Linked DNA regions of Homo sapiens: region 1 is linked to region 2. The links come from fine-mapping of genetic effects on gene expression. A gene starts in region 2. The other region holds a variant in brackets. All regions are shown on one strand. Distances are from middle to middle. Region 1 overlaps GPR55 (G protein-coupled receptor 55). Region 2 holds the start of ITM2C (integral membrane protein 2C).

What was found. PIP is the estimated chance that this variant, and not a neighbour inherited with it, causes the effect.
Region 1: its variant is fine-mapped to the expression of ITM2C in whole blood (TOPMed, PIP 0.96).

What each region holds. Positions count from the first base shown.
Region 1 is chr2:230,901,381-230,913,692 of GRCh38, forward strand. GPR55 (G protein-coupled receptor 55) reads right to left here. Exons shown (of 2, transcript NM_005683.4): 2 at 5,948-9,716. The coding sequence starts at 9,582. The coding sequence ends at 8,623. GCSIR (GPR55 cis regulatory suppressor of immune response RNA) reads left to right here. Exons shown (of 4, transcript NR_038238.1): 4 at 3,009-3,137. Among named protein-coding and RNA genes, the nearest start is that of GPR55, 18 kb to the right of the region's middle. RefSeq lists silencers at 948-1,027, 1,098-1,157 and enhancers at 7,072-8,271, 7,327-7,436, 7,447-7,566. The variant C/G (reference allele first, on the strand shown) is at 4,591.
Region 2 is chr2:230,858,579-230,870,890 of GRCh38, forward strand. ITM2C (integral membrane protein 2C) reads left to right here and starts at 6,364. Exons shown (of 6, transcript NM_030926.6): 1 at 6,364-6,567. The coding sequence starts at 6,448. RefSeq lists enhancers at 3,312-3,922, 5,048-5,706, 6,365-7,023, 7,024-7,680, 10,972-11,629 and 1 more and silencers at 6,114-6,483, 6,584-6,673, 7,464-7,563.

The DNA.
Region 1 (12,312 bases), 43 kb after region 2:
TTTGCTCCCAGTTTCAATGTATATAGTCCTTGGAGGAACAACCCTGGCCAAGAAGTTATACCAGAGGCAACTGACCCCTAAGAGCAGGTGATGAAGAGCAGGAGGAGAGAGATGGCTGCAAGCTGGAAGAAGGGTGGTAGTTTGCAGTGGTGGGGACAGGGGATACCACAGGAGGGGATTAGGAATTGGGAAAAGGACTCACAATCGTGTCAAAGGCAGAATCTGCTGGGAGTGGTTGGGCCTTGGAGATGCTTGATGGGGTGACAATTAGGTGACCCCAAGTACTTTCATGAGAACTTTTATAACATAAGGTTAGGGAGCCGGATGCAGTGGTTCACACCCGTAGTCCCAGCATTTTGGGAGGCTGAGGCGGGAGGATCACTCGAGCCCAGGAGTTTGAGCCCAGCCTGGCCAACAGGGTGAAACTCCATCTCTACTAAAAATACAAAATATTAGTCAGGCATGGTGGCAGGTGCCTGTAGTCCCAGCTACTCGGGAGGCTGAGGCAGGAGAATCACTTGAACCCGAGAGGCGGAGGTTGCCATGAGCTGAGATAGCACCACTGCTCTCCAACCTGGGCAACAGAGCAAGACTCTGTCTCAAAAACAAAACAAAAACAAAAACAAAACCATAAAGGTAGGTAAGGTCATCCTCTGATAGTGGAACTTACTACATAGATACATGCCAGGAGGCAGTAATAGTAATAAAATATCATATAAGACGATGATGATGGTGAAACTGGTATGACCTACTTCACCAACTTAGATTACAAAATGGTCAAATTTCTTTTATTGCTTAATTTATTTTTCCCTATGGGTCTTTTAGGCAGAAGACTTGCCCCCAAATTACTCAAAGACCCCAGGGACCTCCTTTGCTTCCACACCTGAGGGAGGAGAGCCAGGGTTCCATCAGCCCCTGCTGCTGTTTCTCCAAGCTGTCACAAGGTGACACTGTTGCAGCTTGGTGTCTCAAGGAGGGACGCTGCTGCCCCAGACGCTGGGATGCCCTTGGTGGTTGAGGTTCAGGCTTAAGACTCTTCTTAGTTATCATTTCACACTCGGCCATCCCTTCCCAAAGCATAGCTCCTGGGGCAGGGCGGCTGGGTTTGAAGGGGTGTCCAGTATCAGCCACGTTCCATGCTGGCCAGAACAGTGTTATCAGTTGAGATCCCCCTTAACACAAGGTGATTTATTTTGGGGGCCTCATTGCTTGCCCCTGCCACTGATTCTTGGATTGCCCTACAACTCCTAGACAGGTATCCCTGACTTTGCATCTCTGAGATTGGGGACTGGGATATGGGTGTCTTTGCTTTCAGAGGGCCCTGGGACTCTGCTTCCTATAGTGCGGCATACAAAGAGGGCCGGCCAGCTTCTCTAAGCCCCACAAACAAAGGTCCTGGGTCAGCCCAAACCCCAAGAGGAAGAGGATGGGACCCTGGGGGCTCACATTTGCATAACAAAGCGGGCACACAAATGATCCTTCACCAGAGGAAGAACACCTGTGCCCAGGTTCCTTATGTCTCTGCCTAACCCAAAAGTTCTCAACCTGGGGATCAGGAGTAGAATTCACGGGTGTCATGAACTTGCTGAGGGAAAACATTACATGCTATTTTCACTAATCACTAACTGAAGGTAGCATTTCCTTCCATTACGCACGTAGACATCACACCACAGTACGATAGATGGTGTGGTTCCTGGGACTTGTCACCAATAGACATCACAGATACTCTCATATCCCACTACAGTTGCTGCAGATAATTCAAAATAACTTCTCAGTTCATCATAAATTCAAAATTATGATAATCATTAAACCCATCACTAGATCTTGTTATCCAGTGCCTAAAGAAACATATATTGCTACGTTGGTGACTACATTTCCATATATCTGGTTTCCTCTCTAATTCCATGCATTTTTACTTGATGCATGTGAAACTGCCCTTCTGGGGAAGGTCCACAGGCTTCCTCCTGACTGCAGGAGGATCGATGGCACGAGATGAATTAAGACCCCATGGCCTGCTGGGCATTGTGGCTCACGCCTGTAATCCCAACATTTTGCGAGGCCAAGGCAGGTAGATTGCTTCAGCCCAGGAGTTCAAGACCAGCCCAGGCAACATGGCGAGACCCTGTCTTTACAAAAAATACAAAAATTAGCCAGGCATTGTGGTGTGCACCTACAGTCCCAGCTACTCAGGGGGTTGAAGCAGGAGGATCCCTTGAGCCCAGGAGGTTGAGGCTGCAGTGAGCTGTGATCATGCCACTGTACTCAGCCTGGCAGACAGGAGTGAGACTTTGTCTTAAAACGAAACAAACAAACGGAAAAACAAAACAAAAGACCTAGTGCCAGAGCTTTCATCATTCTCAGAGGCTGCCTAAAGCCCTACCTGAAAAGGATGCTAGGTTTGTGAGTCCAAAGGTCAGCCGGGGAAGGTGCAGGGCTACTGTGGTTCCCAAGAAGAGCCCAGACAAGCATTCTGCTGAAGGAGCCTCAGACATGAAGGTGCGAGAGCATTTAACGCGGAGGGCTTGGGGCCTGCAGGAGTGAGCTGCGTGCCCAAGTGTCATACGGATGCCTCTGTTGAAAGGCCCAGTCCTCGATGGGCACCATGGCTGTGACCAGTGTGGACTGAAACCCAGGGTTCTCTGCAAACAGTGCAGTCATCAAGGGATGCCCCAGCTAGGACCCGCGCAGGATCTTGGGGGCGGAAGGGATCCAGTGAAATGGAGCTGGAGCATCCTCCAGTAAACCTTGGTGAATTAGGGCAAGTTACGTTCAATTTGAAGAAATAAGAGAAGTGTGACTTCTACTCCAGGTTAGCCTAGAAGCCGTTCCTGTGAATTGAAGTGTCCCCCCCAAAATTCACATGCTGGAGCCCTAACCCCCAGTGTAACAGTATTTGGAGACATGGCTTTTAGGTAAAATGAAGTAAGGGTGGGGCCTGATCCTGTAGGATTAATGTCCTTAGCAGAAGAGACACCAGAGAGTTTGTTTCCTCTCTCTCTGCCTCTTAGGACACAGTGAGGAGGTGGTCATCAGCAACCCAGGAAGAGTGGCCTCACCAGAAACTGACCCTGCCAGACCTCGATCTGAGACTTCCAGCCTCCAGAACTGTGGGACATAAATTCCTGTTGTTTAAGGTACTCAGTCTGCAGTGTTTTATTATGGCAGCTCAGGTAGACTGACAACATACTTGCCATATATGGGTGTTTTTTGCAGTGTAAAGTCCCAGGGAAGAAATATCAATAGCTGACAGATCTCTTAACCATCAATTTCATCCCACTTTGTTCATATAATTGAAATAGTCCTGTCTTTGGGGTCATATACCCTTTAATAATACTCAGAGAATAATGACTTTGCTCCTCACACTCCATTAATATGGGAAGTCCTATTTTCTGTGGGTTCCCCCCTCCAGGCATCTCTGGGTCTCATGCTCTGCTGTAAAGCTCATACTGATTCCCCTTGGTGAAAGCTGTGCCCTGGCTGCGACTTGAAGTTGGTACTGAAGATTTAGGAAACTGAAGGAAATCCACAGCAAAGAGGCTGGTATCTACTGCCGAAGGGGGCCACACCCAGTGCCCAGTGCCCAGTGCCCAGCAACGCGTGGCCCATCTTGGGGAGGGAGAGGTCTCTCCACCTACCTAATGCTGTCTGGAGACCCATCCCCACAAACATGTCCCACCCTGAGCCGGTCCTCTGGAGCCCTCCTTAACCACTCCAGGCCCACTGGCCTCAAGGCTTCTCCACTGCCCTCAGGGAAACCCCTCCACCCACTCCCAGAACTGTGCTTTGGCTGGGGGCTCACACAGCGATCACTGGGTCATTGGACATCAGTTTTCCCCAGTCAGGGTCATTCCGTCTGAAATGCACTAGGCACTGACTTGGGGAATCGGCTGTTTGGAAAATCTGGGTTTAGCCAGATCTAGTCAACTCTGGCACAACTTTCCTAAACTCTGTGTGGCCTCCACCGGCAAGCCGCTCCGAGACACCACTTGAACGAGAAACGCACACGTGTGTATGCATTCTCATCTGCACTACGCACAGCCCAAAGCCACCTACTGAGAAGAGAGGCTTTTTGGAGACATCTGTCTGCACCCTAAGCAGCCTTTGCATAACTGTGCTGGCCCCGGTGGAGATGCAGGTCCCCCCTGCAGGCAGCGTCTTTGTTACACTCACTCAGGCGTGGGCCTCCGGAATAAAGCTGTCATCTGAAGCCTCAAAAGTGAACCAGAGCCGCGTCTGGCTTTGAAGTGACAGTGCTTCTGATCCTACCTCACGAGACTTCAAAGCACAAAGGGCCACGTTTCTGTCGTGACTCATGGTTGAGGCACCATGTGGCCTTTTCTGCAACAGCTTTGCAAGGAGGTCATATCTTGCAGGCTCCTGGCCTGGGAGGGAGCGCTCAGGCCTGCAGTGGGGCAGAGGGACGTCTGTTTTGTCCTTCCACTTCAAGCTCCTGGAGTCCCTCTTGACCTGCTATCCACACCCCCTCAAATGGCTGTTCATGGCTCTGTGCCCTCGGCTCACTAGAGAAGCCAGCTCTGGGTGGAAAAAGCCAGTGGGGCCTGTGATGGTAGTTTCAGGGGAGTGCTCACC[C/G]AGAAAAGGCACCTTTGGCATGTCTTTGAGTCCTCTGTCCCCCCGCAGTGGTAAGGTTGTCAAGTGGTCCCTGCCAGCCTTTATTTGGCCCTGGAAAGTCGCTGTCCACAGTACAACTGACTCTTGAGGACAGTTGAAGGGTGGTCTGGCGTGGGCATCCCCACACAGCTCCTCCTGCTATGGGGATGTCCCCACCCTTGCCTCTTGACTGTTCTGCACGCCAGCCTCTCCTCACACCCACACAGTGGCTCTGCCCAATTTCTTTCCGCACTGGTCTATTAACTGAATCCTTTTTAACCTCTAGGAATCTCTACAACTGTTATCAGGCCTCAGTCATTTCAAGCACCTTTGCAATCTCCATCCCTTTGTGGTCTTGCTACAAGGGTGTTATCTTACGCTTCCAGAGGTCTTTGGTATCCTGTGGCAATTACATAGTATTAGTATCATGACTTTCAGCTTCCGAGGGTCCCCAGAGAGGTAACTCAAGAGGAATATAGTTGACAAATGCACCTTGTGAACTGACATTCTCCAAGTCAAATCCTCCCTGGGGCCAAGCGGAGGTGGTCACTATCCCTAGGGGACGTGGCCTACATGGGGGGTGGCTCCTAGATTAGTAGGAGATGGTTAGATGGAGCAAAGATGTCCCCCTTGGCCCTCAGCACCCACGCCATGATCAGCTGCGCTCGGGATTGTGGGGAACTCAGGACAGAGAGTGGCCCAGGCCAGAGCCTAGCAGGGCACAGCTTCTGGGAGCTCTCCAAAGGCTAGCAAAATTCACTGTGAAGTGCGGAAAAGAACCTAGGAGAATCCACCCTTGGAAAGTCGGATTCCCACCACAGGAGGTCAGAGAAGGGAGGGAAGGGCCACCGAGGAGGACCTCTAGAGACTGGCCCTGTGTCTTCAGCCCCTCAGTTCTTCAGCCCCTCAGTCGGTCAGCAGGTTTCTCATACTGGGCCCCCCACCCCTGTGTATGCAGAGAAGCCAGGGCCTGTAGAAGCAGCTGCAGTGTCACGGTGGCAGTGCGACAAGGTGGTGGTGGGACAAGGTGGCAAGGGCAGGGTGGGGTCGACTGCAGCCGAGTATGCGGGGTCTGTGTAGCCTGGCTGCTACCACAGAGAACCAAGCACCCGTGTGGATGTGGGGGAGTGGAAACTAGACCCCAAAGGGTCTGGCTCCTGGTCACCTGGACAGGCCCAGCTGTGCTCCTGAGCAGGGAGGGCCACTCCCTGCAGCCCCACACTTGGTGGCCAGGTGGCTGCTGAAGAGACCAAGATTGTTGGGTGACCTGGCAGGGGCCATCTGGGGCCTGCTCTTCTCCGGGTCCAGTAAGCTTAGTCCAAGACAAGGTCACAAGGCATCACATGAATCTATTTATTTGGCGAATCAGATTAATCAAGTCATTTTTTCCAAAGCTAACCGTCCGCCCCTCCTGTGCTGCTGGGCCCCACTGCTGATTATGGGCCAGCTTGGGTTGCAGCTATGTGGGTCCAAACTCTCGGCCCTCCTGCCGAGCAGCCGTAGTGGCCTGCAGCATGGACCTGTGCCCGCTCCCACAGACACGGGTCCCCACGGAGAAGAGGCCCTTCTTTCCACAGTGTTTTGGGATGGGTCAGGGGTCCCCAGGGCACACCCACAGGTCCATAGTTGTCACATCACACTGAGACTGCTGATACCCTCCAAGGACCTTCCTCTTACAGCCATGCAGCTCCTGGGTCCTGGCTCCCCTCCCCGTCCCTCCCTACATGATCAGGTCCTCTCAGCTGTCTAGAGCCCTTTCTGTCACCTGGAGAGAGTCATGCTGCACATAGATAAGATTTTATGTTTGAACATCGCTGGGGATGATAGTTGGTTAGGTCCACCCACCCTTGTCTCTTAGGAAGCCCATCTGGCCTTAAGCACATTGGTAGACCCAAGTGCACATGACGGGCATCACTCAACTCCACCAGGCAGGCTCCCAACTCCTCGTGCAGAGAAAGAAGTGGGAGGAGGGTGGTCACTAAATCCACCACCCGTAGACACTGACCCGAACCAGCCCCAAATGCCCCGTTGCATGTGAAAGTCTGGCTCCCTCAGAGTATCACGGGTGGGTCTCTGTCTAGGGTGGCCATGGGAGAGGGCAGCCTGCAGGCAAGGAGAGGAGTGTCTGGGGTTTGGGGCAGCCAGGCAGCCTTACCTCTGGGTCTGCAGAGCCTGACTCTGTGGCTGTGGTTCTTAGAGGCCCAGCTCAGGGGGCCTGAGCCTCCGATCCCTCTGGTCTGGTCTGGTCTGGTCTGGTCACTCCTCCACATCCACTTCCACCCCTTCATTGACGCTCTCTTCCTCACCCTTCCCTCCATCCACCTAGGAGGAGGTGTACAGGGTGCCACTTGAACACAGCAACAGCGGGAGCTGCTCCTGAGAAGGCGACTCCTGTCCGTCCATGGCTCTTAGGCCAGCTGGGAAAGCTCTCAGGCAGGAAGCAGCTCAGCCAGGTTCCCCACCCACCCTGCACTCCCTGCAGGCTTCAAGCCTAGGGCCACGGCTCAGCTTCCCCTCCTTTTCCTCTTCCTCTTCCTCCTCCTCCTCCCCACAGGTCCAGGTTTATCCAAATGCTTCTCTTCTTCCCCTCAGGTCACCACCCCTCCCAAGCCCTTCAGCCCCCACTGAGCCCAGATCCTACAAGTAGACCTCAGTTGCTTTTCCTCCTGAAGACCTTGCTCACATGAAGTCTCATCAGTTACTCCTCATCCCACTCGCTCTGTCATGCAAAACCACCCCACAATGGATCCTTCTCATCATTTCACTCTCCGGAGCAGCTGAGTCATTGGGAGGCTTCCGCTGTCACTTGCACTCCTCCTCCAGATCCGTTGAGAAGCCATCCAGGCGTGACTCAATTGTTTACAGTTTCCTGGGACCAGCAGGGACCCCCCCTTGCCTTCTTTCTCAAGGCCACACCCTTGTGCCTAGCTGCCTCATCTCCCTCCCAGCTGCCAGGGAGGGACGGCTCCATGGGCAGTGCCACGGGTGCCAGCTGCCCAGCCAGGATGCAGGTGAGTAAGACAGCACCTCCTCCACCCTCCTATGGTGGAACCAAGGCAGGCCTGATTCTTTGCCATTGTTTTCAAGGAAGCTAGCTGTAATGAGCAACTTCCCAGTCTGTTTAAGATAGAAAGCAGGTCGGGGTCTCCCCGCTCCCAGGCCGTCTCTCACTGTCTCTCTTCACCCTGGGCCAGCACCAACACTCCGTGCTGTGGACACCCTGATGGTGATAGGGGAGGGGCTGTGTGCTTCCAGCCCTGGGCCTGTCTTCTTCCTTCCCCAGAAGTGTCCTTTCCTCTCCCCCCTCATGGCTCTTGGATGTCATCAACACCCCACTCAGTCATTTTGCAGTCTTCTCACGGGCACGGAAAGGTGTGGCTGGCTTCCTTCACCTTTCTGAGGCTCACTGGAAACTTGGGGTGATCCATGCTACTTGCCCAGCCCCAACACCACCCCTTCTTGCTGTCATCTCAGTGAGGCTTTTGGCAACACAGTTCCAGAAGGGACTGGAAAATGCAAGTCTGCTCTGTTCTGGGACACCCAAACTAAAAAGGGACTTCACTCATCCCTACCACCCCACCTCTGCCCAAGACACTCTCCCCAATAACTGACTCTCTTGGCTCCCTCCTTTACCTCTTTTCTCTCTCTCTCTTTCTTTCCAGAACCTCCCAGTCGAACAGGAAAATGGGGAGAGTTGGAAACAGCCTTGTTGACATGGTCTCATTCTCTTTCTCAATTCTTCTGCTCTATAGTTTTTGGACTTAGAAATCAGTAATTCACCTGGTCTGTGGGTTCTTCAGAGATCCCTGAACACTGGGTGGTATAAGCTGTCTGGGCAGTGGAAAAAAGGTCTTTGGGGTATAATGAGCAAAGCTGGCACTCAATGGGCATCAAAGGGAAGCACATCAGTGAAGATGGTGCGGATCATCCCACCACATCAAAACCCTGGAACGCGATATCCGTTACCAGAATTCAGGGCCAGGGCTTTCTTCCCCTGAACAGGATGTCCTTCCGTTAGCCCCGGGAGATCGTGGTGTCCTGCAGGACCAGCTGGACCCTGGAAGGCCGGTGGGCCCTGATGTTCATGCGGAATTCTTTGATGACAAAGTAGTAGCAGAAAACATCCAGGCAGCAGTTGACGTTGGAGAAACACATGGACAATTGCAAGAAGAAGCTGATGCTCTGCTTGGCTCTGCACTCTACGATAAAGCTGTTTCTCACCAGGAACTGCAGGAAGAACCCCAGGTGGACTGGGAGGAAGGAGACCACGAAGACAGCCAGGCTGGCTGCGATGCTGTAGATGCAGGCTTTCTGCTGCACCCAGTCCTGGGTGTGGTCTCGGCGGCCCAGCAGGATGTGGATGCTCCTGGAGCAGCAGAAGCCCATGATGCCCATGGGAAGGAGGAAGCCAAACACCTCCAGCGGGAAGAAGACCTTGGCGCTCCAGGTATCATCAGACATGTTGTGGAAGCACATGTATTTTTCCACTTTCCCATGGAAACTGTAGATAGGGATGCTTCCGGTCCACACCAGGACCCAGATGGTGCAGCAGATCCCAAAGATCTTCCTGGGGGACCGGAGGTGGCTCACCAGTAGCGGGTAACGGATGGCCAAGAACCGGTCCATGCTGATGAAGCAGATGGTGAAGACGCTTCCGTACATGCTGACGAAGTAAAGGCACTCCACCAGGGTGCACAGGGACGGGAAGGGGGACTGTACCTGGGACAGGACCATCTTGAATGGGAGGGAGAGCACCAGCAGCAGGTCAAAGACTGCCAGGTTGATCATGTAGATGGAGGTGGCAGCATAATCGGGCCACCTGTTCTTAAGGAAGGTGCTGAAGCCATGGATGGCCAGCAGGTTGAGGAGCAGGCCCAGGACGAAGGTGGGGATGTGGACTGCAAACTGTAGGGTTTTCATCAGCTCGTTGACACCGTCAAACAGGCAGTCCCCACTGGTGTTTTGCTGACTCATGTTTCTTCCTACAACACCAACAGATCAGACGGGGCTCCTTTCACTCTCTTGAAGTGATGGATTCAAATGACTTTGTCAAGAATCACAAACACCTCCCCAGCATCACACAGCAATTCATGCCCATTGAATCACAACTAGAACACAGAAAAGAAAAATTACCTTTAATCCTGCTGCCCAGATGCAACCACTGTTACTTTTTGTGTATATCATTCCAGACTCGCTTTCTCACTCTCTTTCTACCATACACACATTTTTCTTTGACAAATATAGAACCTGCTGTGCATGGACATCTGTCTTTTAAATCAGAACTCCTTTTGTTGAAAGAAGTAACAGCACATACCCAGACCCAAACAGGCTGAAGCAAAGAGACAGTTTCACATAATGGAAAACATGAAAACTAGGGTAGGGCTGACTTCAGGAGCAGCTGGATCAGGGATTCAAATGCTGTTTCCAGGACTCAGCTCCTTTTGTCTCCTTTGTCCTCCTCCCACCCACTTTCCTGATGGTTGGACACAGTCAACCTGCAACCAGGGATGATTGACACCAGAGCGTTGCATTCCCCTGGACACAGTAGCTGGTTAGTTCATTGGTTCAGGGACAGATATTTGACTCTCCAAGAAGCCATGATAATCAACACAACTTTTGCTTGGGTTTCCAGGCAGAGGGTTGGAGTCCCTTGTCAGGGATTCATAGTTGCCAAGATATAAGGTCTGCAGCTGCTGCAGCCTCTTGTACCCCAAAGAGAAAACCAGACAGAAAATGGAGAGATATGGGAGAAATGGCATTCCCAGAAGGAATGGAGCGGGGCCCTGAGGTCTCCACAGGGCAAGGAAAGGCCTTTTGTCGGGCAGAAAATTAGAAGTGGCCTCAGGGACGGGAGGACCAAGGCTGCAGGTGTGGTTGCACAGGGGTGTGGTCCGAGCCTGGTCAATTTGGGGTGAGGGGGTGAGTGCCATTGTGGGGTTCTGCATCAAGGTATGTAGCCCTGGAGCAGGAAAAAACCAAGTGTTCAATCCAGGCATCCAGAACCAGGTTGCTAGAAGGACTCAAATACGACCCAACTTCCACCCTCTCCCCACTTGCCCGCCTCTGCCCACCTCCCTGCTCCCTCCTTTCTCACCCACTCTTCCCTCTCCCCACATGTGAGGCCATGCTGCTGGTGTACTTGACTTGGACTGGCCTTAGACATGGAATGTGCCACATTCACTAGAGCACAGGGGCATGGCATGGAAAGGACATTTATGCCTGGCATCTTCCTTAACCACTTCGGCAGAAAGCAGCTGGGTGAGCAAGTGCGGCCAGGTCCTGCCGTGAGACCCACCTTCCTGTGCCTCTCCCACCTCCCATGACTTCCTGGCTAGCAGGTGCTGAGATCCCAAGATATCGATGTATCAGGGAGGAGACATCAGCATGGACTCCCACCAGAGAATCCCATACTAGTGACCACTGCAGCTATTTATTTTTATTTTTATTTTTATTGTTTTTGAGATGGAGTCTCACTCTGTCACCCAGGCTGGAGTGCAGTGGCACAATCTTGGCTCACTGCAACCTCTGCCTCCCCAGTTCAAGCGATTCTCCTGCCTCAGTCTCCTTCATAGCTGGGATTACAGGCATGCACCACCACGCTCACCACCCCTGGCTAATTTTTTGTATTTTTAGTAGAGATCAGTTTTCACCATGTTGACCAGGCTGGTCTTGAACTCCTGACCTCAGGTGATCCACCCACCTCGGCCTCCCAAAGTGCTGGGATTACAGGCGGGAGGCCCCGCACCTGTTCCTAAAACTTCTGTTATTAATTAAAGCTTCTGTTATTATTTTTCATAGCTTTTTATTAATTTTAAAAGTATTCCAGGCGCTCAATAAGATATTCGAAGAGAACAAAAGAACAAGCGTAGGAAAGTCAGCCTCCTTGTACCCTAAGGCCTCAACTGTCCTTTTCAAAGGCAGCATGGCTTACAGCTTCTTGCATATTCCTCCCAGACATTTTCTAAGTAGATACATATATGCAAATATATGCATGCATACATATACATGTATGACTTCTTTAAAATTTGGAAATAATATACCTAGAGCCCCTGTCCCTTGCTTTTTCGCTCATCAATGTTTCTTGGACATTGGTCTATATCAGCATATATGAATGGCTTGTTTGCCTCCCATTGTGTAGGTATACCAAAACTCATTTAGCCAGTAGCTTATTCATAAACATTTAGGTTTCCAGTATTTTACCAGGAAACAATGAATTCCACAATAAGCATTCCTATGACTTATTTCTTTGCTGTGCAGCTATTGCTAACAGAATTCTCATTCTGCTATTGTTTCTCATCACTATTGGGCGCCCGTGGGAGGAAAAAATTGGGGTGTGTTTTAAGATCTTATATGTAATACCATTCCCAAGCCCTCTCTGATCTCTAATGAAAAAGAAAATCGATATATATAGATAGATGTTTATAGGTTCATATATATATCATCCATTGAGCACTACGCACTAAACATTTAACATACATTACTTGATTTGGTGGCTTTCCAAAGATTCTATGGTTTCCAATGTGTTAACTTTTCTCACAGATTTATGTAATGAGAGATCTAGGAAAAAATACTTCCTCTTATTCAAAGCCTTGGTGTCCTGTGGTCTGTGGGGATGGTGCCTCCTAGGGGTGTGTAGGAGTAACTGGTCCTACTCAGGATGCTCAGAATCTGCAAGGTGGGGTGGCCGCCTCCTCACTAAACATG
Region 2 (12,312 bases):
ATGTTCAAGACCTCTATATTCTCTATACTAAAAAAAACACAACATTTGTGAGAGGAATTAAACAAATGGAGAAATATACCATGTTCATGGATTTGAAATCAAAATTGTTGAGATATCATTTTCCCCAAAATTGGTTTATAGATTTAACATAAGCCCAATTAATACCAACAGATTTTCTTTTGTAGAATTTGATAAACCAATTCAAATGGTTATTTGGGTATTCAAAGGATCTAGAAAAGCTCAACAGTCTCGAAAAAGTCAGAGTACTCATACTGTCTGATGTTAATACTTATTAGAAATCTAAAGTGATCAAGATAGTGTGAAATTGGCATAAGGATAGAAAAAAATAAACTAATGTAACAGAACAAAGAGTCTAGAAATAAATCCATTAAACGTTGTCAATTGGTCTTTGACAAAGATGCCAAAACAATTAAATGAGAAAAACAAAATTTCTTAAACAAATACTGCTGGGACACCTGTATAACCATATGGAAAAGAAATAAACCTCAATCCCTACCTCATACCTTACATTAAAAAATCAATTAAAAGTGGATCACAGACCTATATGTGAAACCTAAAACTATAAAGCTTCTGAAAGAAAGAATATGAGAATATCTTCAAAATTTGAACATGGGTGTTTAAAGAATTTTTAGACAGGACATTAAAAGCACTAACAATAAAATTAAAATTTATACATTGAGCTTGATCAAAATTATAAATTTCTACTCATGAAAAGACAAAATTTTAAAAGTGAAATACCACAGTCTGAAAGGAAATATTCACAATGAATATACATGACAAAAGACTTGTATCCACAATATAAAACGAATTCCTACAAATCAATAATTAAAAGACAGTCTAAATGACCAAAAGACTTAAGCAGACACTTCACAAAAGAAGATATACAAATGGCCAATACCACATAAAAAGATGTTCAGCATCATTAGTCATCAGAAAAATACAAATTAAAACCACAATAACATAAAATTTTACTAAATACAATTGCTAAAATTAAAATAACTGACAGCACCAAATATTGGTAAAGTTGTGGAGCAACTGAAACTCTCATACATTGCTGGTGGGAGTGTAAAATAGCACAGATATGTTGGCAGGGCTGTGCTGAAATGGGGAGAGAGTCATGTGAATGGTCTGTCCAGATCAGGCAATAAGGGAGTGCAATTTCTGCACAGAATTTAAAAATTATAATAAAACTAACTAAAAATTGATCTACTTTACATCATCACAATGCATTCGCATTTCTAAACAATGTCAGTGATAAAATATGTCTGTCTTGTAGGGTGGGCCATTTCTACCTCATCCTCACTGATGCTATTTACTCAAGAGAAATTAAAACAAAAATACATGTAAAGAAATGTCCATAGCAATTTTATGGTGGAAGACTGAAGGCAACCCAAATGTCCATGTCAGGAGAATGGATAAACAAGTTGTAGTGTATTTAAAAAATGGAATATTACTCAGCAAGTAAAAAGAACAAACTATTGTGGATGAACCTCATAAACATATTGAGTGAAACTAGACACAAAAGAATACATGTTGTACAGTATATGAAATTCAAGAACATGGCCAGGCATGGTGGCTAACACCTGTAATCCCAGCACTTTGGGAGGCCAAGGTGGGTGGATCACCTGGGGTCAGGAGTTCAAGACCAGCCTGACCAACATGGTGAAACCCTGTCTCTACTAAAAACCTCCTTTAAAAAAATGAGCCAGGTGTAGTGGCACACACCTGTAGTCTCAGCTACTCGGGAGACTGAGGCAGGAGAATTGCTTGAACCCAGGAGGCAGAGGTTGCAGTGAGCCAAGATGGTGCCACTGCACTCCAGCCTGGGTGACAGAACAAGACTCTGTCTCAAAAAAAAAAAACAAAAAAAGAAAGAAAGAAAGAAAAAGAAAAAGAAAATAAAATAAATTAAAGAACAGATAAAACTTAATCTATAGTGATGGAAACCAGAACAGTGGTTGCCAGTGGTGGTGGGGATTTACTGGAAAAGAATGGGAAGAAATTTTCTGGAATTATGGAAATGTTCTGTATCTTGATTGGTTTGTTGGATACATGAATATATATCTTTGTAAAATAGTTTTTCATTTTACCTAAAATTTTTTTTTAATTACCTTCAACACTTAGCTTTCAGCTAGCTCCTCAGTGGAAAAGAGGGGCCTCTGAAGGGGGCAGGTGGAGGTAGGGGAGGTGGAGCTGAAGATAGCTGCTGCTCTTGTCAGAAGAACAGGATCTCAAACTCACCCACTCCCTTACTCAGAGCATGTGATTGATGGAGCACACTTCTCCTTGAGAAGAACTCTGAGGACAATGGGCACACCCTTGTCTGAGCCCGTTACATTTCCAGAAAGCTAATCTACTGACCCTCTATGGATTTGTTACAACCATAAGTCTTACATAACCAGTGCTTTAAATTGTAATAAACTAGATATCTTTGCAAACAACATTCAACTTCTAAATTTTGAGAAACAGGCAAATACATGTAAAAGTTCTCATTTCTGATTTTATTTTAACTAGAGACGGGGATCTCGCTATGTTGCCCAGGTTGATCTTGAACTCCTGGGCTCAAGCAATCCGCCCACCTTGGCCTCCCAAAGTGCTAGGATTACAGGCAGGAGCCACCGTGCACAGCCTGAGATTTTATTTTCAAAGTGAACTGTTGCAGGATTGATTCCAACAGCCCTTCCCACTGGAGCCAATCACACCAGAGTTGATGAGGGAAGGGAAGAGTTAGTGGAGAGGCCTCAGCCAAGAGGCTCAAAATCAACGCAAGGAAGATGAGGACTGAAAAGCAGCTTGGAGATTTCAGCCAGGTGGAGGTGGAGGAATAGAAGCCAGATTGAGGTAGGATGAGTGTAGGGAGTGATAAGGAAATGGAGACTGAATTTTCAAGAGGTTTGGCTAAGAAGAAGAAAAGATAAACAGGGTATCAAGTGGAGGAGGACGTGGGGTCAAAGAAGGGGTTTGTTTTTGTTTTAAGGCTAATACGAGCATGTTTCAGAGCTGACAGGAAGAGCTGAAAGGTTAGGAGGCGGGGGCTGATGGATGTCTCAGGTGTCTGATAGGAGGGGAGGGGTGGAATCCTCATCTAGAGAGTGGCTGGAGAGAAAAGACAGACGCCTCTTCCGCGGCGAGTGGCAGGAGGAGCAGTGGGCAGAAGGGCAGCTGTGGATGGGGGCGGATGTGCTGGCAGGCAGGAGGGCGTTCTTATGTTGATAGACATAAGCCACCTAAAGCCATGGCTTCCAGATCCTCAGCAGCTGAGCTGCTGAGAGGTGTGCAGCAGTCTGGAGAGGGCAGGATGTGGCCGTTGAGAGTGTGGACAGAGTGACAGAGCAGCAGTTCCCAAACCCGAGTGTGCATCAGAATCACTAAGGGCTTGGTGGGCACAGAACACACCCTGAGTTTCGGAATAGACATAGAAAGGGTTTGCCTTCCTAACAAGTTCCCAGGTGCTGCTGGGGCTGCTGGCCGAGGTCCTTGCTTGGAGAATGACTGGTTAAAGAAGCCACAGCTGTCCCACCCTGCAGCTCCAAGGGGACCGCTTTGCATGGCTGCCACCATGCCCCTCCAAGAGGAGGTAGCATGCTGGTCCCAAGGGGCATGATGGTATCACTTTCACCAACAGAACTTAGCAGTCCCTGAGCAGAACCTGGAACCAGAAAGGGGGACAGGAGAAGCTCTGCCACTTGGGTAAGATGCAAGAACAGAACAAAGAGGATTCAGGTGCTGGCAGGAATGGCTGTTGGACTGAGCTGAGGGCTCCTGGCCCAGAGTCACTCTCCTCACTCCCAGTGCGGACTCTCATTTCCCTGTCACTTGTCCACACCCTGTGTCTTTCCAGTTCCCACCCAAATCTCCTGTCTTGCATGGAGCCTGGGCTGCACCACGACCGCATTCACCCTGCTGTCCTTCCCTGAGTCCACAAAACTCAGTATGCGACATGGACCTCCCGCAGCCTCCTGGCTCCCCTTGGATTATTGACTGGCTATACTGTACTCCATCAAATATAAGATGCTATCACTTGTGAAAGACATTACTTAATCACTGCCAATTATAATTGTAAAAGATATCTTGATTCTCAAGATGTTAAAATGTGAAGAAATGTGTTTCTTAGAATCCATGGAATATGGATTCTTGAGCATCTGAACAGGTGATCTGCAGAGCATGGTGCCCCCCAAGACCCATTCAGGGGGGTCTCCAAGGTCAAAACTATTTTTTGCAACAATATAAGTCATTATTTGCCCTTTTCACTCTCATTCTCTCATTAGCGTGCAGTGGGGTTTTCCAGAGACTACATGTGTGATGACATCGCTTTGATGCCCAATGGAATATATGTATTCTTGTGTCTTAAAACTTTCTGAGTTTTAGTTTCTAATATGGTAAATGTTGATAGACATAAGCCACCTAAACAAAAGCTCTTGGGGTCCTGAAACCAAAAAATTTAGGAATCACTGCACTAGGTTGTACGCCCAGCACTTGGCCGGCATTGAGTCCATGGTCAAGCGTAAGGAGAGGCCCGAGGGGGATGTGCACAGTGCTGAAGGTGCACAGGAAAGGGACTTATCCCAGCCGGTCTGGGAAGGCCTTCCAGGGGAAGTGGGGTGCTCGCCTGCCAATCTCAGGCATGTGGATGCTTCACCCAGGTGGCCCTGTCTTGCTGACCAGAGATTTGTGCCAAACCAGCTCTGCGACCCTGGGTTTAGTCATGCTACCTTCTATCACTATTAACATGAGGCTAATGTGTAGGTCACAGAGGCTGTGATGAAAATTAAATAATTGAATGCACGTGAAAGAATGCCACTCATAGAAGGTTTCACATGACCACATCCTTGGTGGCTGGGTTGTGTCTTGGGCATCTCTGTTTTCTGCCACAGAGCTTAACACAATGCTTGGCACACAGGGGTGCTTGGAAAACACTGAGTGAAGGAATGCATGTTGGGGGTGTGGCCTAAGCAAGACGTGGAGCTTGCCTTCTCCAGACACCAGGTTTCCCATGGGATCTGGAGCAGGTGATGAGCGGTAGTCCATAACACCTTCCTCTCTGGCTCTGTGCCAAACCAGATTCCTCCTCGTCTCCTCCAAACCATCTGTCTTCTTCCACCTCCCCATTCCCTCCCCCCAGTTCCCCAGGCTGGTGGCCTTAGCATCAGTTAGACTTTCTTCTTTCCCCACCTGTCTGTCCTCAAGGTTGCTAGGTTCATCCAAGATCTGAGCCAAGAGGTCCGGGTCTGGGACGTGGGCGCTAAGGGCCCAAGGCAGCTGCAAAAGACCTGAAAGGTGAGAAGAGAGATCAGTGGAGGACCCCGGACTGTCCTCAAGAAGCGGACGGACTCCCCTGCCCTCCACTGGCAGCCCAACAGCAGAACCAAAGCGGACCACTCAGCACAACCTGTGTGTGTTGCTGGGCGCTGTCCCTGGCCCAGTCTGGACCAGGAGCAAAGAGGAAAGATTCAGGGCGTTAGTGCCAAGAGCAGCCATCCCAGCAACAGAAGCCCCTGCTTCCCCAGTACCCGTGATACTTGGGAGGAGCAGAGTCTTGAGTGGAACCCGAGCCTCTGACACCCGCCCTGGGGGTCTTCCCTCCACTCTCGCCAGGGTCCTCCTGGATGAGTGAGACAAGGGCAGTTCAGGAGGTCACCCAATAACTGAGGTCGCAGCAACACGAAGGAGCCAGGGAGCAGGGGCGGCCTTCCCTTCTCCACTCCAGGCGGCTCCAGCGTGCACCCCAGGACCCCCCAGGAAGGTTTTGCAGGAATAAAGAATGAAGGCAGAAGCAAGATGGAGGATGAAGGAGGCGTGGATGGCTTCAGAAGGCAAGACGGAGGCAGCAGTTTGGCGCCTGTCTCAAAGCCTCCTCCCCGCGCCAAGGACAGGTCGGAGGAGGGGGGCGTGGGGACAGGTAGAGCGGAGGCTCCAGCGTTTCTAAAGGGGAAGACCTGAAGTGGGGCAGGAGAGACGGGTGAGTTGTCTGGAAGCTGCATTTGCCTGGCAAACACTGGGTTAACAAAGACTTGCGTTGCGGGGATGCTGGCCTTGGACAGGGAATGCGAAGGGATTATGCTACGGAGAACGGATCCGAGCGTGACGGCTGAATGAATGAGTGAGCGAGTGAGTGAGTGAGTGAGTGAGCGAGCGAGTGAGTGACTGTGCGAGCGAGCGGCAGAAGGAACTCCGACCCGCCCCAGGTGCGGAGCGGCGCGCCCGGCAGGGGTCACTGCGGGCCCCGCGGGCGGGAAGGGGGCGCAGGCGCGGCGGGCGCCGGGGCCCTCCCGCGGGGACGGGGCGGGGAGGGCTGGGGGTGGGGTTAGAGAGAGGGACGCGAGCGGGATCCAAACTTCCGGTGCCTGCAGAGCTCGGAGCGGCGGAGGCAGAGACCGAGGCTGCACCGGCAGAGGCTGCGGGGCGGACGCGCGGGCCGGCGCAGCCATGGTGAAGATTAGCTTCCAGCCCGCCGTGGCTGGCATCAAGGGCGACAAGGCTGACAAGGCGTCGGCGTCGGCCCCTGCGCCGGCCTCGGCCACCGAGATCCTGCTGACGCCGGCTAGGGTGAGAGGGTCTGGGGCTCAGGCGGTGGGGCGGGGGACCCAGGCTCACGACCCAGGCGCGCCCCGTCGGCCCTGGGGACTGCCCGAGGCGCGTCAGGGCCCCAGAGCCCGGGGTGGAGCAGGGTTGGGAAGTCTCGAATGGTTGCTTATCCCAGAATGAGGAGGGGGCTTAAGTCCCGTACTAAAGCGGCAGCCAAAAGCTGAAGTCCGAAGAGTGGGAGGCGTCTGGTTCTGGTCTTCAGGTGGAGAAGTGCTCGAGGTCTCTTCCAAAAGTGGGGGCCCCCTCGCCGCCTTATAGGGGGAGGGGGCTGGTCCGAAGAAGTTCGAGGAATGTTGGTGGGGGGGTACGCGTCTGGTTCCAATCAACTGGGAAAGCCGCGAGTCGAGTCCCCAGGTGGGGGATGGGAGGAGGGTTAGACGTAGTTTTTCCAAAGTAGGGCGGTGGGACCTGATTGGCTGGGGAATTGGGGGTGGGGGGGTCTGGTACCAACGAAGAGGGTGGGGCCGTTGATTTCCTCCGAAATTGGGGGCTGCGAGGGACAGAGGATGTGCTGCTGGCCTGCACCGGAATTGACAGACCAGAAAGTGATGAAATGGAAATCAGCCAGAACCGACGGCGCTGCGGCCTCTGGACGTCGGGGGTCCGAGGCCGGGTGCCCCCTTCCCACCCCACGCCCTGCCGTCTGGGCCTCCCTGCTCCCCTCTCTTTTCTCCATTCCCAGCCTCTCGCTGGGCTGTCCCCCGACCCCACGGGGAGGGCTCCCAACTGCCCCAGTGCCCTTGCATCCTGGGTCCCCGGGCTCTGTGCGCGTTCCCCCACCCCTGTCATCCCCCTCCCCTACCCCGGCTTCCTCCACTTTCCCTCTGGCCGGGGGGGAGAGAAGGCATTTCCGCCGTGGAAAACTGTCTGAGCTGCGTGCCTTGTGTCCGGGAAGGGCCCGCAGGGGGCAGAACGCGTGGCGGGCAGGGACAGGGAGGGAGGGAGAGCTGGCCCAGCCAGGTTTTATTGTGCCTGGCAAAGGTGTCTACGTGGGCGCCGCCCCCAGCGGTCTTGTGGCTTACCAAGCCCATGTCCTCCCCGCCTCCCCACCCCGCATTGAGGCAGGACTGAGAAAGTCTTTGTCCACTGCTTCCCCACTTCCAGATGCAGGCTTCTGAAGAGTCTTCCTGAACGCCTAGCCCCCTCCCCAGGTTTTGTGGCTCAGGTTCAGTCTTGCCTGGGGCATTAAGGGGCCTGCAGAGGATGACCTGGACCCTGGAGGAGGGGGCGCCGGAGAGGGCCGTCAGAGTTGGGTGTCAGCCTGGGCAGAGACCCTGAGTGAGGAATGCCAGGAGACTGAGAACCCCCTGCCCTTTTATGGTGGTCACTGCAGCAACCAGTGGCTCAGAGCCACAAGAGTTCAACAACCACCTAGGCGAGGTTGGGGGTTGCTGTGCACCCCATGAGAGCAGCTCCCCCCTTTTCATCTGAAGCTTAGGTGGAGGGGGCGCTCCATATTTGAAGAAGATGGTTCTGCAGCTTTAAAAGTTTGCAAGGGGTTCTTCAAGACTCCTTTTCTTTGGAAGGGAAGCTGCCCTCCACTCAGCCTGGGGAGGGGCAGGGATGGGGGCAGGAGGCAGCACGCTTGCCCATCTCTTTTCCTAGCCACCTCTTCCTGGAGATATTTGAGGAGGGAGGACCAGGTCAGACAGTGGGAGGGTGTTATTCCAACTCCATCAGAAGGTCCCCCAGATTTTGCAGGAGCGGCACATTCTCCAGCCGCAGCCTGCTGATGGCATGGGTTTGGGCAGTCTGACAGAGACCTGCATCTCGGGGCATAACTGACATCCTAGCTTCTGGCTTCTCATCAGGCTCTGAAATTGAGCGTCCTTTCTTCCCCCTCACCCAGCATGAAATGGAAATATCAACATCTTCCTGCGTGCTGTTTGTAATGGCCTTGAGCCTGCTGAGTACCTCCTCCCTCAAACTTTGTCAGTTGGGCAGGGTCCCCTCCCTCTCTAATTGGCAAGGGGGAGCTTAGGACTATGCGATCTGGGGAAAGAATTAGAATCCTGGCATCTTTAGGACAGAACTGCATGTTAGTAAACTTTCACAGCTTCCCAAGGCCCTGGCGTGGTGCAGAGGGACTTTAGGTGTTGCAAGTTGGCTCTGCCCATCACCTGCTAGATTTGGAGCCTTGGAAACAGTTCACTTCTGCGGGCCTCCTGTTGCCCCACTTGGCCAACCCGCACATTTCCTCCTTACCCAGTTTCTGGCAAGGAGCCAGGCCTCGTCTCCTGCCCCCAGCAGTGAGCAGGCAGGAGGCCCATTTCTCAGCTGTAGCTCTGTGAGCCGAGGGATGGCAGCCAGGAGGCTGCTTTCTCAGGGCAGGGCGTGTAGATTTTGTCCCGTACTGTTGGGAATGCCCAGGAAAGCTTATTAAAACGTTTCTTCTGGCTGGCAGTGACCCCAGAACCCTCCTTGGTGTCTGAACTGGACTCCAAAACAAGATTTATTTTATTTTATCTATTTTATTTTATTTTATTTTTTTTTTTGAGACAGAGTCTCACTTTTACCCAGGCTAGAGTTCCGTGGCACGATCTTGGCTCATTGCAACCTTCACTTCCAGGTTCAAGTGATTCTCCTGCCTCAGCCTCCCAAGTAGCTGGGAATAAAGGCACCTGCCACCATGCCCGGCTAATTTTTGTATTTTTAGTAGAGACAGGGTTTCACCATGTTGGCCAGACTGGTCTCAAATTCCTGACCTCAGGTGATCTTCCCACCTCAGCCTCCCAAATTGTTGGGATTACAGGTGTCAGCCACCACACCCGGCCCAAAACAAGATGTAAAAAGTGATCCGCAGGAGGAGCACTCGGTGAACAGATGATTGTGCGGTGAACAGATGATTGTGCGTTGGGGCAGTTCTTGACCTGTGTCCAGGCCCAGAGTGAGGGCGGGGTGGGGGCAGGGTGAGGCGGCAGGAGCACCCTCTCGGTGGGCACTGCCCCTGCTTCTGAGCAAAAACTGCAACACAAGGAGGATTTTGTCTGTGGACCTGAGACTGGAAGGAAGTGCCTCAGTGGGCCAGGGAGGGATGGGGGTGGGGGCCAGCTGGGCTTCCAGCTGCCCGGCCTCCCCCCCTGGTGTTTTGACTCTGAGATAATGAGGAGCTGGGACACTGCCAGCTTGGGAAGTGGGCTGGACCGGAAGCACCCCCTGGGACAGCAAAGCACTCCCTCCCAGCGCCAACTGGATCCCTCCTCCCCTTTGGGGGCCCACTGGCTGGCCATGCCCCTCTTAGCCTGCCCCTTCTCCCCACACCCTGCCTGTGCCTGCACTCACACACACACACACACACACTTATGCACACACATGCACGCACAGATGTGGGCATGTAGAGGCTCACGAGCTGGGGCTGTAAGGGGAGAAAAACAAGTTAAATACAATCATCTTCTTACCTCTGTAATTTTCTCCTTGGCATTTGCCTTTGATTAATGGTCCTGTGTCACCCCCTCCCCAGCCTGCATACCTGGGGATCAGATTTCAGTTTCCTAGTGTGTCCTGGTCTCAGGCCCTCGGCAGGAGGAGCTGGGTCTCCTGGAGCGGTTGGGGGAGGGTCCCGTGCCAGCCAGGAGGGCAAATCTGGCCAGCTTAGCCCTACCCCAGTGTCCTGATGCCCACTGGCCAAGAGGGCCTGGCCCGAAAGCACTTTGTGGAGCAGCGGCCCTGCTCCATCCAGGTCCTTCCCTGTGGCAGCGTGGGGACTTTCATGGCTGTCGTCCATTCCTGGGATTTGGCGCCCCGGCAGGCCCCACGGTGGCTTCTCTGCTTTCCTGCCGCTTCTCTCTCCATTCCCTCATTTCTGCTCTCTTCTCTCAGCAGTCCTTGCATGTTTCAAGACCGTCAGCAGATTGCCAGTGAGGATGAGTTTCTCTTAGTGTGGAGAAAAAATGTTTATGGTGAAATCACAGAGGCACAACCTGGCCAGCCCCTCTGTCCACCGCCCCACTCTCTCCAAGTTCCCTCTCCCCATGAGGGCTCTTCCAGCAGTGAGCTTTTGTTGTCTGGAGATGCCTTGACTATCAGGGATGGAAGAGAAGAGGGAATTCGCCTGGCCCAGCCAAGCCGAGAGCGCATCTGCACAGATGCTGCCCGTGGGGCCTGCAGTCTGGAAGGGAGGACAGGAGAGTGATGGGGACCCCTGACCCTGTTGGCAGATGGCATCTGTGCCTCTGGACCACTGGGCTCTGTGTGCTCAGGTGGACAGTGTTTGCCCACTCTCCTCTCCCCCAGCTAGGCTCTGTCTTGAACACATACAAGACACACACACTCGGTGGGTGCCCTGGCCTCTGTGGTCTGGAGCCTGGGAAAGAAAGCTGCTGAGGACCAGGAGAGATGTGGGGGAGGTGAGATGAGACTGCCTCCCCAACCCCCATCTTCCCTGTTCTCAGCCTGGGCCTCAGGAGTGCGTTTCTGGCTGCCGAACCCCTCCAGGCAGGCTGCAATCTGCAATCATCGTTAAATCGGCTTGCAGTTAATTTGGACATTGTTACTGGGGGATGGGGCCCGGGAGCGCTCCCTTCCAGCTGTGGGGGTCTGCCGAGTTAATGCTACAGTTGGCTGGTTTCCCCCTGACCATTTTGGCCCTGGCTTTGGTAAATCATTTAATGAGTGCCCCTGTGGGTCTCAGTTTAAGCCTGCAGGGAGAGGCCCAGGCCTCTCTCGGGTCCCTGGACTTCCGGCTCATGCGCCCTTCGCTCAGAGAGCTCTGTTGCCTTGGAAACAATATGCAATATTTTTCTACTATCTAAATGGGAGCCCCCCTCCTCAGATACCTCACTGTCAGTAACTGCTTCCTATGGGGAGCAACATTTTTCTGGGTCCCCAGCATGATAGGTGGTGCGGCTGGGGTCTCAGGAAGGTGGGCCATTCGGCCATCTTTCTAGTGAGCTGGGCACCAGGGATCCCAAGGGGCCAGGGCTCTGGGTTGAGCCCAGGCTCCCTGATGCCCCACTGTCCCCAGACAGGTGTAAATACCCCGAGATCACAGGCTGCTTTGAGGGCCAAAGGGACAGTGAGGGTTCCAGGGCTTTGGTGTTTGAGCCTTGGTGTTGATTGGGCACAGTAGGCAGAGGCAGCGCTGGGGCGGGATTTAGGAGTTCTGCCTCTGTGTGGGGCTTTATGGAGGAAATGCCTTCGCCTCCAAGCAGGGACATCTGCGCTTTCCTGTCTACTTTCTGGTAGCCTGTAATGCTGCCTTCTGCACTTCTGCTCATAATGGTGCCTCTGAGGGTTTGGCTCTGCAGGCTGGAGCGGAGCTGGGAGGGTGGCAGCGTGGCTGAGCCCGGGTGTGTGCTGGGGGACATCAGCAGGGCCATGAGAGAGAAGTGCCCACCCGCAGTCTAGGTAAGGTGGGGGATCCCCAGCCTTCACAGTGAGGGGTCTTGGCAGGAACCCCTGCCCTTCTCTGCCACACCTGCCACTGCTGCTCTTCAGCTGGGGCCGTGGAAGCCTCACCTTCTCCCTGCTCTGTCTTCTCTAACCTCCCTCGGTGGGGCCTCCGAGCCCAGCCCCTCCCCCAGGACAGGGAGACACGGGACCCAGCTCAAGTTCTGCAGACCAGCATTAAGGCGGAAAGGCGGAAAGGCGAGGCTGCCCTTTGCCATAAAGCTAGCAGGCCTCACCTTGTCGGTGAATTTGATTTGTGGAGCAGGCCCTCGGGCTCTCCCACGTAGCGCTTTGACTTTTTTTTTTTTCCCTTTTCTG